Homo sapiens: one gene and its partner. The protein of the gene in region 2 purifies or fractionates together with the protein of the main gene of each other region. This does not show direct contact. Each region holds a gene or a part of one and is shown on either strand. Other genes may lie near its edges.

Region 1 (4,891 bases), on a different chromosome or scaffold from region 2:
AGGCCGAGGAACTGATTATTCATATGTATATTCTTAGCCCTTTCCCTTAATTATAGAGAAAGTGATATCTCACTTTTGTCTTACTTAAGGGAATATTCAGTGTAATTTTAGATTTTTATTATGAAACTGTGCTGTGTAGTAGTTAGAGACTGAAAATAAATTCCTTTGATAATAAGGTGTGTAGATTGTGGAGGCTCAGACTGAAACAGGGTGTTCACCAGGTACAGTATAAATTGCTGGCACCTTTGTGCATTGAAGCAGTTGGGAAACATGTGAATTTTTATATATCACCCACTAAATGGTCTGTGCTTCTGGTTATGTGTTTGCTTCTGTGTATCCTGCACATACCAGGCCTGTATTCTCTTCTTTCTTTCTTTTTTTTTTTTTCTGAGATGGAGTCAAACTTGCTCTGTCAACCAGGCTGGAGTGCAGTGCAGTGGCACGGATCTCAGCTCACTGCAACCTCCCCCTACTGGGTTCAAGCGATTCTCCTGCCTCAGCCTCCCGAGTAGCTGGGATTACAGGTGCATGCCACCACACCCAGCTAATTTTTGTATTTTTAGTAGAGACAGAGTTTCGCCATGTTGGCCAGGCTGGTCTTGAACTCCTGACCTCAGGTGATCTGCCCTCCTTGGCCTCCCAAAGTCCTGGGATTTCAGGCGTGAGCCACCGTGCCCAGCCCTGTATTCCCTTTTCAAGACATTTTGTGGTGTACTGAAAAGGCATTGGACCTAGAGTTACAGATCTGGATTTGAATATCAGCTCTTGTCACTAGCAAATGTGTAACTCTGGAGTCACTTGACGTTTAACCATAATTTTCTAATCAGAGAACTGGGGATAATCAAGTAAAAAATGGCTTTGTAAAACAAAATAAATTCGTCTATAAATGTTAGCTATTCTTTTTGTGTCATCCTTTTCAAAATCTGCAGTGATTTCTGCTTACTATAAAATATGGTTGAGAATTCCTAGAAAGTGTTTGAAGGTCCTATTTTTGTTTGAGCTGAGTCAGTTCCTGGAGTGTTTTTGGCTTCCACAGCTTTGCTCATTGACTTTGCCCATTGTCCCTACCGACTTGATGCCATCTAATCACTCCTTGGTGCCTTCTAAATCCTACGTAATTTTTAAGACTTAAAATTGCAGTTTGGGCTGGGCATGGAGGCTTACACCTCTAATCCCAGCACTTTGGGAGGCCGAGGCAGGTGGATCACCTGAGGTTGGGAGTTTGAGACCAGCCTGACCAACATGGAGAAACCCCGTGTCTACTAAAAATACAATATTAGCTGGGCGTGGTGGTGCATGCCTGTAATCCCAGCTACTTGGGAGGCAGAGGCAAGAAAATTGCTTGAACCTGGGAGGCAGAGGTTGTGGTGAGCCGAGATTGTGCTATTGCACTCCAGCCTGGGCAACAAGAGCAAAACTCCGTCTCCGAAAACAAAAACAAAACAAAACAAAAATGGTCAGATAATTGAAATTTCAAATAGTTTAAAGATATTAAGCACTTCCTAGGAGAGTGAGTTTTCCTCAGCAGCATAGAGGTGTCTGTTGATGTTAATTATTTAGGAAGTCTTAAACATCCCACTAGACTCATTTTTTTAAAACCTGCTACTCTTGAGGATTTTGTTTGCTAAGTTAACATATTAAAAATACTAACGGGGCTTTCTTTTAGATACCTAATTTTATGCTGTTTTATGTAAATATTTGTAAATATAAAATATTTGTGAGCTCTATTCAGAAAACGTTTTCTTGACTGGGTGTGGTGGCTCACACCTGTAATCCCAGCACTTTGGGAGGCCAGGAGTTCAAGACCAGCCTGGCAAACATGGCGAAATCCTGTCTACTAAAAATATAAAAAAATTAGTTGGGTGTGGTAGTGCACACCTGTAGTTGTAGCTACTCGAGAGGCTGAGGCATGAAAATCCAAGAGGTTGGAGGCTGCAGTGAGCTGAGATCCAGCCACTGCACTCCAGCCTGGGCGACAGAGTGAGACTCTGTTTTAAACAAACAAACAAACAAACAAACAAAAACAAAAACATTTTCTTGGCTAGGTGTGACCATGCCTGTAATTGCAGCACTTTGGGAGGCCGAGGTGGGAGGATCGCTTGAGGCTAGGAGCTCCAGACCAGTCTGGGCAAATAACGAGACCTTGTCTCTGCTAAAAATTAAAAAAATAACCAGCCGAGTGTGGTGGTGTGTGCCTGTGGTCCCAGCTACTCAGGAGACTGAGACGGGAGGATTGCTTGAGCTCAGGAGGTTGAGACTGCAGTGAGCTGTGGTCATGCCACTGCACTTCAGCCTGGGTGACAGAGTGAGATCCGGTCTCAAGGAAAACCAAAAGATAAAAATAATTAAAAAAAAAAAAAAACCCAAATTTTCTTTAGTCTGTTTCTTTCCATGCAGCATGTAACATAGGATTTGATGCCTTATAAATATTTAATAAGTACTTGATTGGTTATCTGAATGGAAGGATTGCTCTGTCAACGTGTCCTGGGATGGGCAAGGTGTATGGTAGGCCCCACCTGTGTTTATGAGGTTTATGATACTGCTCTTGCTGTGACGTGGCAGTACAACAGCCTTATAGCACAATGACTGTTAACTAAGAAACTTATTTTCTGGCTTGTACATTTATCTGACATCTTCACATAAACAGGCAAAGTATTAAATCAGGGTTAGCTCTGCATCTAATGAACTGCCTTTATTCCTTATTAAATCAGGATCTTTTGTTTTCTCTTTATAGGTATAATGTCATTATTCTTTGGCTGCTTTCAAGATTTTTCTCTTGGTTTAGTTTATAGAGGCTTAATTATGACGTGTTTTGGCATGGATTTCTTTGGGTTTATTCTGTTGGGCTTTGGTTAGCTTCTTGAGTCTTAGGTTTATGTCTCGCCAAATTTCACAAGTTTTCAGCCACTATATTTGAGTACTTTTTCACCTCTATTCTCTTTTTCCTCTCCCTCCAGGACTGCAATGACATGAATGTAGATGTATGTTTGACTAAGCTCCACAGGTTTCTCCTGCTCTGTTCATTTGTTTTCTGTGTCGTTCATATGGGGCAATTTCTGTTGTTCTTTCTTCCAGTTCACTGTTTGTTTTCTCTCTCCCCTCCATGTTGCTCAGCCCATCCACTGTGGTTTTTATTTTCTTTATTGTATTTTTTTCAGTTACAAATTTTCCATTTATTTTTTCCTTATAGTTTTCTATCTTATTTTTACTGAGGCTTCCTATTTCTTTGCCAAGCCTATGTTTTCATTTATTTCAAACATGTTCATAATTGCTCACTGAAGCATTTTTGTCGTGGCTGCTTTAAAATCTTGGTCAGATAATTCTAATGTCTTTGTCATCTTAGTGTTGGCCTTTTCATTTAGTTTGAGATCTTCCTGATTCTTGGACTGATGTAATTTTTTATTGAAACCTGGACATTTTCAGATTATGTTGTGAGACTCTGGGTCTTATTTAACCCTTCTATTTTAACTGGCTTTTTTGACACCCCTCAGGGCAGGGAAAGAGGGAGGGGCCTCACCACCCTATTACTTACCGCCAGGTGTTAGAATTCCAGTTTCTCTCTCAACCTCCATTGACATCTGAGGTTGGGGGGAGGGGGAGGCTCCTTGTTACTACTGGATGTCAGGAGAGAGTTCAGGCTACCACCTGGTGAGGGTGGCCTTGTACTTAGTGGGCCATAATGAAAATCCTGACTTCGCTAGGCTTCCTCTGACACCACCCTGGTATAGGTGTTGGGGTGCTTCCTAAGTCTTGTGAGGGTGGAAATGTAGGCTCTTCACCTCAGCCTCTGCTGGGGTTAGGAAAGGTGTCCACAGTTTTTTCCGTGGGTTTGGCTGGAACAGGAAGGTTAGTGTTCAGAAATGTTTTCTGTCTGGCTAGGCTGCCCTTTTCCTAGTTCTTTGCTAGAGAGATCAGGTTTTAATTGGGGTTTTGGATTTTTGTTTTGTTGTTGTTGTTTTGATTGTCTGTACACATTGGCATTTCTGGGTGGCTGCTGTTTCACTTCCAAAGCTGGGGATTATGAGGCAAAAGGAAAATCCAGAAAAACTAAGGAACCTACCACCATGGCTTGCCTTGGGTCTTGAGCTCCCTAGATGATCATCACCTTTTGGAGTCTCAGGTTTGTTTTATATATAATATCCAGGGATTTTAGTTGTATAAGCAGGAGGAATAGGAAGTATGTCTATTCCATCTTCTTCACTTCTTTAAAAAACACGTTAGTCTGAATATCTTCAAATATCAGTAGTGCATAGAAAATGAATTATTTTTTACTTTTTCTTTTTTACCAACTCTTTCACAGTGTCTTATGCTGAGGTTTAGTTGCAATTACATGTAATGAAATTGAAAATTTTATTTTTTCTCTTAATCTTTATTGCAGATTCTGATGCTCACAGTACCACCTCAAGTGCCTCCCCAGCTCAATCTCCTTGTTACAGTAACCAGTCAGATGACGGCTCAGATACAGAGATGGCTTCTGGTTCTAACAGAACACCAGTTTTTTCCTTTTTAGATCTCACTTACTGGAAAAGGTAAAAGAAACAAAGTATCTCTCTAACCAGCAAACCATCTTAATTATGGGCAGTATTTTTCTACTTCCTTAGCAATTAAATGGCATTTGGCAAACAGTTGGTAACACACGATTGCAGTGGATTAAGCAGGAATTGAGCAGGGAAGTGGGATTTTTGTATGTTCTTCCTATTAAAATTTATTTAAAATAAAAATCACATCAAGGTACCTACATTGCCTATTGCTAGATAAGTGGAGTAGAAAGACAATATGCAGTGGAGAGAATCAGTAAAACTAAGAGTTGGTCCTTCAAAAAGACGTGACCAAAAATATACTAGAGATAAAGTGGATCAGGAAAAGGAGATAATACACATAAGCAATTTTA
Region 2 (4,891 bases):
CTCTCCCCCCACATGGGATAGTTATTCACGAAGGGCTATAGAAGTTGAGAAAGGAAAATAAAAATTATTTCAAAATTGATATAAAAATAGTACATTCTCCCATAAGAGTAAAACATGCAGGGAATATTAAAGGTTTCAGTGATTCAGAATTAAGATAACATTTTGCTTTGAGCTTATTTCTGGTTATGTTTAATAAAGAGAAGTTCATAGTCTTCATAGCCACTTGCTGAGGTCTAAAGGTTAGCTTACCTGAATTCCTGAAAAAGACAGCTCTGTTGTGAATCCTTAATATTTCATGTCTTCCCTGTGAATGATCCGAAGGGCTGTGTGCTCTTGTCATGTTCACTTTTTTTAATTGCAGTGTCTGCCTCTCTCCACCCTTTCTTTAATTTCTTCCCAGACTTACTAATCATAACATAATTCTCACAGGAAGATTGGTGATGCATTGAAAATACTAAGAGAAAAATGAGGTAAAAAAGCATCTGGTATTTAATTCAATGTATTATCCACCTAAAAATGAATTTTACAGATGGTAATGATCTCTGACAACTTGCCATTTAATAAAATGATGGTTTTTAAAAACAGATCAGTTTCCTACTCATGTGCTTGATTTTGCATTGACTCAGCAACCCCCAATACTCTTTCCCTTCTAAGTTGCTAATACAAAGTAGATAAAATAAATTATGACTAAGACTTCCTTGCTGCCCTTGACCAAATCGGCATCATCAATCTCTTTATAAGTTCCTCAAAGGCAGACAGACCTGACCTTATTGATTTTTGTATCATTAGTGTCCTCCATGGGGGCTGGCATTTTGGGAGCCTTGCAGTTAAGTGTGTATAAATGAAAACCCAGGCACTGAAAACAGGTTTTACAATAAGCTTAAATTTCCCATTTTAAAAAATAGCTCTATATTAAAGTTTCAAGGTATCTGGGAGCCAGAGAGGAAAATGGCAACTTTCCCCTTGAATGTTCTGTACGTGAAATTTGGGGAGTTTTGATGAGAAATATAAAAACTTAACCAAATTGGGGCCAGATGGGTTTTGGTGTTCAGAATCTTTCAGATTTTAGGAAAATTATACAGTAGATACATATTACACTAAGTAACTTCCCCAGTGCATATTTGAATGCACCACTATTCCAATAACAAAAAGTATGAATGGTCACAGTAAGTGAAATAAACTATTTAAGACTATAAAGTTTCAGGTTGGTTCAGGTCAGAATTTGCAGCCAGCTGAGTTCACATCAGATCAATTTGCCAGCAAGTGAGTTAAGAAAACAAAAACAAGTTTGTTCTCAGAGCATTTATGACTTTAGAGTTGTCTATCAGCATTTGTGGACCTATAATGTTTTGTTCATTAATCAAAACCTTCTGTAATTGTTTAGCAAATGGTTATATCATTTCTAATTTCAAGTGGACAGGTAGAAATTATTTCTGCTTTCCTCATTTCCCCTGGAAAAAAAGAAAAGGCAGATATCTGAACAGAGTTTGAGGATGATTAAATACAGGTTGAGCATTCCTAATCTGAAAATCCAAACTCCAAAATACTGCCAAATCCAAAACTTTTTGTGTACCAACAAGAAGCTCAAAGGAAATGCTCATTGGAGCATTTCGGATTTCTGATTTTTGGTTTAAGAATTCTCAACCAGTAAGTATATAACGCAAACATTCCAAAATAAAAAAAAAAATCCAAAATTTGAAACACTTTCGTTTTCAAGCATTTCGGATAAGGGATATTCAGCCTGTGCTACAGTTAAGTACATCGTTTCACTTAGACCACACAGAATCCTCTGAGATAGGTCCTAGGATCGTTTTCCTTTTACAGAAGCCACAGAGGAGTGAGGGGGTAAGTGATTCATTCTGGGTCACAAAGTTAATAAGTAGCAAAACTAAGAATCAGACTTGGGTCTTTCAACTCTGAATCCCTTCCTCCTTCTTCCAGGTCTTGTTTTCATAGGAAAAGCTTCTGTTGAAGCTAGAAAATGACAATTCAGAGATACGTTTGACGAGTTAAATGACTGTATAACAGTGCCCACAGCCTTCTATCAATTTGATTCATTTCAGTTAGTTTGGCAGAAGTGGGCTGATTGTTGTAAAGTTTAAAGTGTGTTTTGATTATTTTTAAAACAGATATAATTGAAAACTTTAATTTTGAAGGTGGAATAATAAGGATACTTTCGGGTGCTCTCCCATTTTGTTTTAATTGTTTAGATGTGCCTGGCATCAGAAGGGATGAAAATGGAAGAATCAAAGCTAATAAAAGCAAAAGAATCCGATGGTGGAAGAATTAAAGAATTAGAGAAGGGAAAGGAAGAAAAAGAAATTAAAATGGAGAAAACAGATGAAACTAGGTTACAGAAGGAAGCAGAATTTGAAAAATCGGCTAAGGAAAATTTAAGAGATTCTAAGGAATTGAGAAATTTTGAGGCATTGCAAATAGATGACATAATGGCTATAAAAATGGAAGATCCCAAAGAAATTAGAAAGGAAGAGTTAGAAGAAGATCACAAATGTAGTCATTTTCCTGATTTTTCTTATTCTGCCAGTAGCAAGATAATAATTAGTGATGTTCCCAGTAGAAAGGATCATATGTGCCATCCTCATGGAATTATGATCATTGAGGATCCCGCAGCATTAAACAAGCCAGAAAAGCTAAAAAAGAAAAAGAAGAAAAGCAAAATGGATCGACATGGAAATGATAAATCCACACCCAAGAAGACTTGCAAAAAGAGGCAGTCTTCGGAATCTGACATTGAGAGCGTCATATATACCATTGAAGCCGTCGCAAAAGGAGACTGGGGCATAGAGAAACTTGGAGATACCCCTCGCAAGAAGGTCCGCACATCCTCAAGTGGCAAGGGAAGCATTTTGGATGCCAAGCCACCAAAGAAAAAAGTGAAATCAAGAGAGAAGAAAATGTCAAAGGAGAAATCCTCAGACACCACCAAAGAGTCAAGACCTCCAGATTTCATTAGTATTTCTGCTAGCAAGAACATTTCTGGTGAGACACCAGAGGGTATAAAAGCAGAACCATTGACCCCTATGGAAGATGCACTACCACCCAGCCTATCAGGACAGGCCAAGCCTGAGGACAGTGACTGTCACAGAAAAATAGAAACTTGTGGTTCCAGGAAATCCGAGAGGTCTTGCAAAGGTGCTCTTTATAAAACCCTGGTGTCTGAGGGCATGCTCACCTCTCTGCGAGCTAATGTTGACAGAGGTAAGTAACTTCTACAAACCTGAAAAGAATTCAAAAACCAAACAGAATTTCACCTTTAGACCTATTGAAAACAACTGCCATAAAAAACAATATGGTATCAAAATAATACCTTACATTTGTATATTTCTTTATGGTTTATAGATCATAATTATTTGTTACTTTACTTACATGTTTTCTAGCACCATTAAGGGAAGTGTATTCATTTTGTAGGTAGTTCTCAGGATGTAATTAAAGTAATTTTAATCTCTTCTTTCCCCCCACTGGTATGGGCTGGCTGTTTGTTTTGAAAGATTATTATTAAATATTCAGAGCTTTAGGTTTGGTTTTGAAAACTGGTGGAATTTCGAGAATCAAGCACGTATGTTTGTCAGAATCTTCACCTGTAGGCTCTAGAAGCAACTGCCTTTCTCTCTTCATTAGGTAATCAAAGCTGTAACTGAAGTGGGCCAGGCACAGTGGCTTACACCTGTAGTCCCAGCGCTTTGGGAGGCCAAGGCGGGTGCATCATTTGAACCGAAGAGCTCTTTAAAACATTATAATGTCCAGAAAATAGTTAACCTGTTTACCTTTATTCCATTGAGTGTTTTATATAAATTCTCTATTTTAAAATATAGCATCTGCCTGGAGGACTACCTTTTGCCAAGCTATATTCCAACAAGACATGTGTGAGTCCTAGGTCTAACAAGCCCCAAATGAAGATACTTGGGCCTATTTCATCCCCAGGGATGTCAGTTCAGTGAGTTTTAGGGAAATTAGACTGAATAGTGCCCACCAGCAAAGGACTCCCATACCTTGGCTGGTTTTTGAATGGAAAAGCTAGCAGCAGTTAGTCTGTCTCTTTGAGTCATGTGATACCTGTTGAATTACATGACAATTAATCCCAGAAGCTCTAAGTCACTTTTCTGCATGTTCCATTATTAAAGATGGTCCAGCATGAATCACTCTGAGAACTCTGAAATAGCTACAGTTAGCTTCATGCAAATGATATGCAAGCAGTCAAGAGGTTGCTCGTGAAGCAACTAACATCATCTCCCCTCGCCCACCTGTATACCAAACACATCCTTTCTCTTGAATTTTCTTAGGAAAACGAAGCTCAGGAAAAGGAAACTCCTCTGATCATGAAGGGTGTTGGAATGAAGAAAGCTGGACATTTAGTCAGAGTGGGACCAGTGGGAGCAAGAAGTTCAAGAAGACAAAGCCAAAAGAAGACTGTCTCCTTGGGTAAGTGCCTGTGAGCACAGTCACCTGTACTCCACAAGCCTCAAGTGTGGGTGGGATTTTCAAGGTAAACAGATCACTAACTACGCATGCTTGTTCTTTGACTACTCGCTCAGGACTTCCTACAATCTTAGTAGGCACCCTAGTGAACACAAATCAAGTGCATCACATCATTCCTGCTGTTAACATGGTCATGTGAATGACAGTAACATTCACATTTTGATCATAGTGAAAATATATAGACTTTAGACTTGGACCTGAGTTTGAATCAACATCCCTTCACCAGGATGCATTTTTCCATCCGAAGCTTAGAATGGATAGTATTAGCATGTTTACATTTTGCCCATTTTACATACTATATGTATTTATTGTTTATAAAATGACAGCTGAAAAATGTAAGGTAAATGAAATTATGCTTCTATCGCCAACTTTATTTTGTTCCAGCTGTCTTCTG

Evidence for each region. The genes of interacting proteins can lie anywhere in the genome.
Region 1: the proteins of BBX (region 2) and SINHCAF purify together in Homo sapiens (co-immunoprecipitation; one large-scale study listed by IntAct). This does not show direct contact.

What each region holds. Positions count from the first base shown.
Region 1 is NC_000012.12:31,287,272-31,292,162, reverse strand, and holds part of SINHCAF (SIN3-HDAC complex-associated factor), read left to right. Parts: intron 1-4,378; coding exon 4,379-4,529; intron 4,530-4,891. UniProt on the Homo sapiens protein: Subunit of the Sin3 deacetylase complex (Sin3/HDAC), this subunit is important for the repression of genes encoding components of the TGF-beta signaling pathway.
Region 2 is NC_000003.12:107,770,418-107,775,308, forward strand, and holds part of BBX (HMG box transcription factor BBX), read left to right. Parts: intron 1-2,210; coding exon 2,211-3,219; intron 3,220-4,301; coding exon 4,302-4,440; intron 4,441-4,891. UniProt on the Homo sapiens protein: Transcription factor that is necessary for cell cycle progression from G1 to S phase.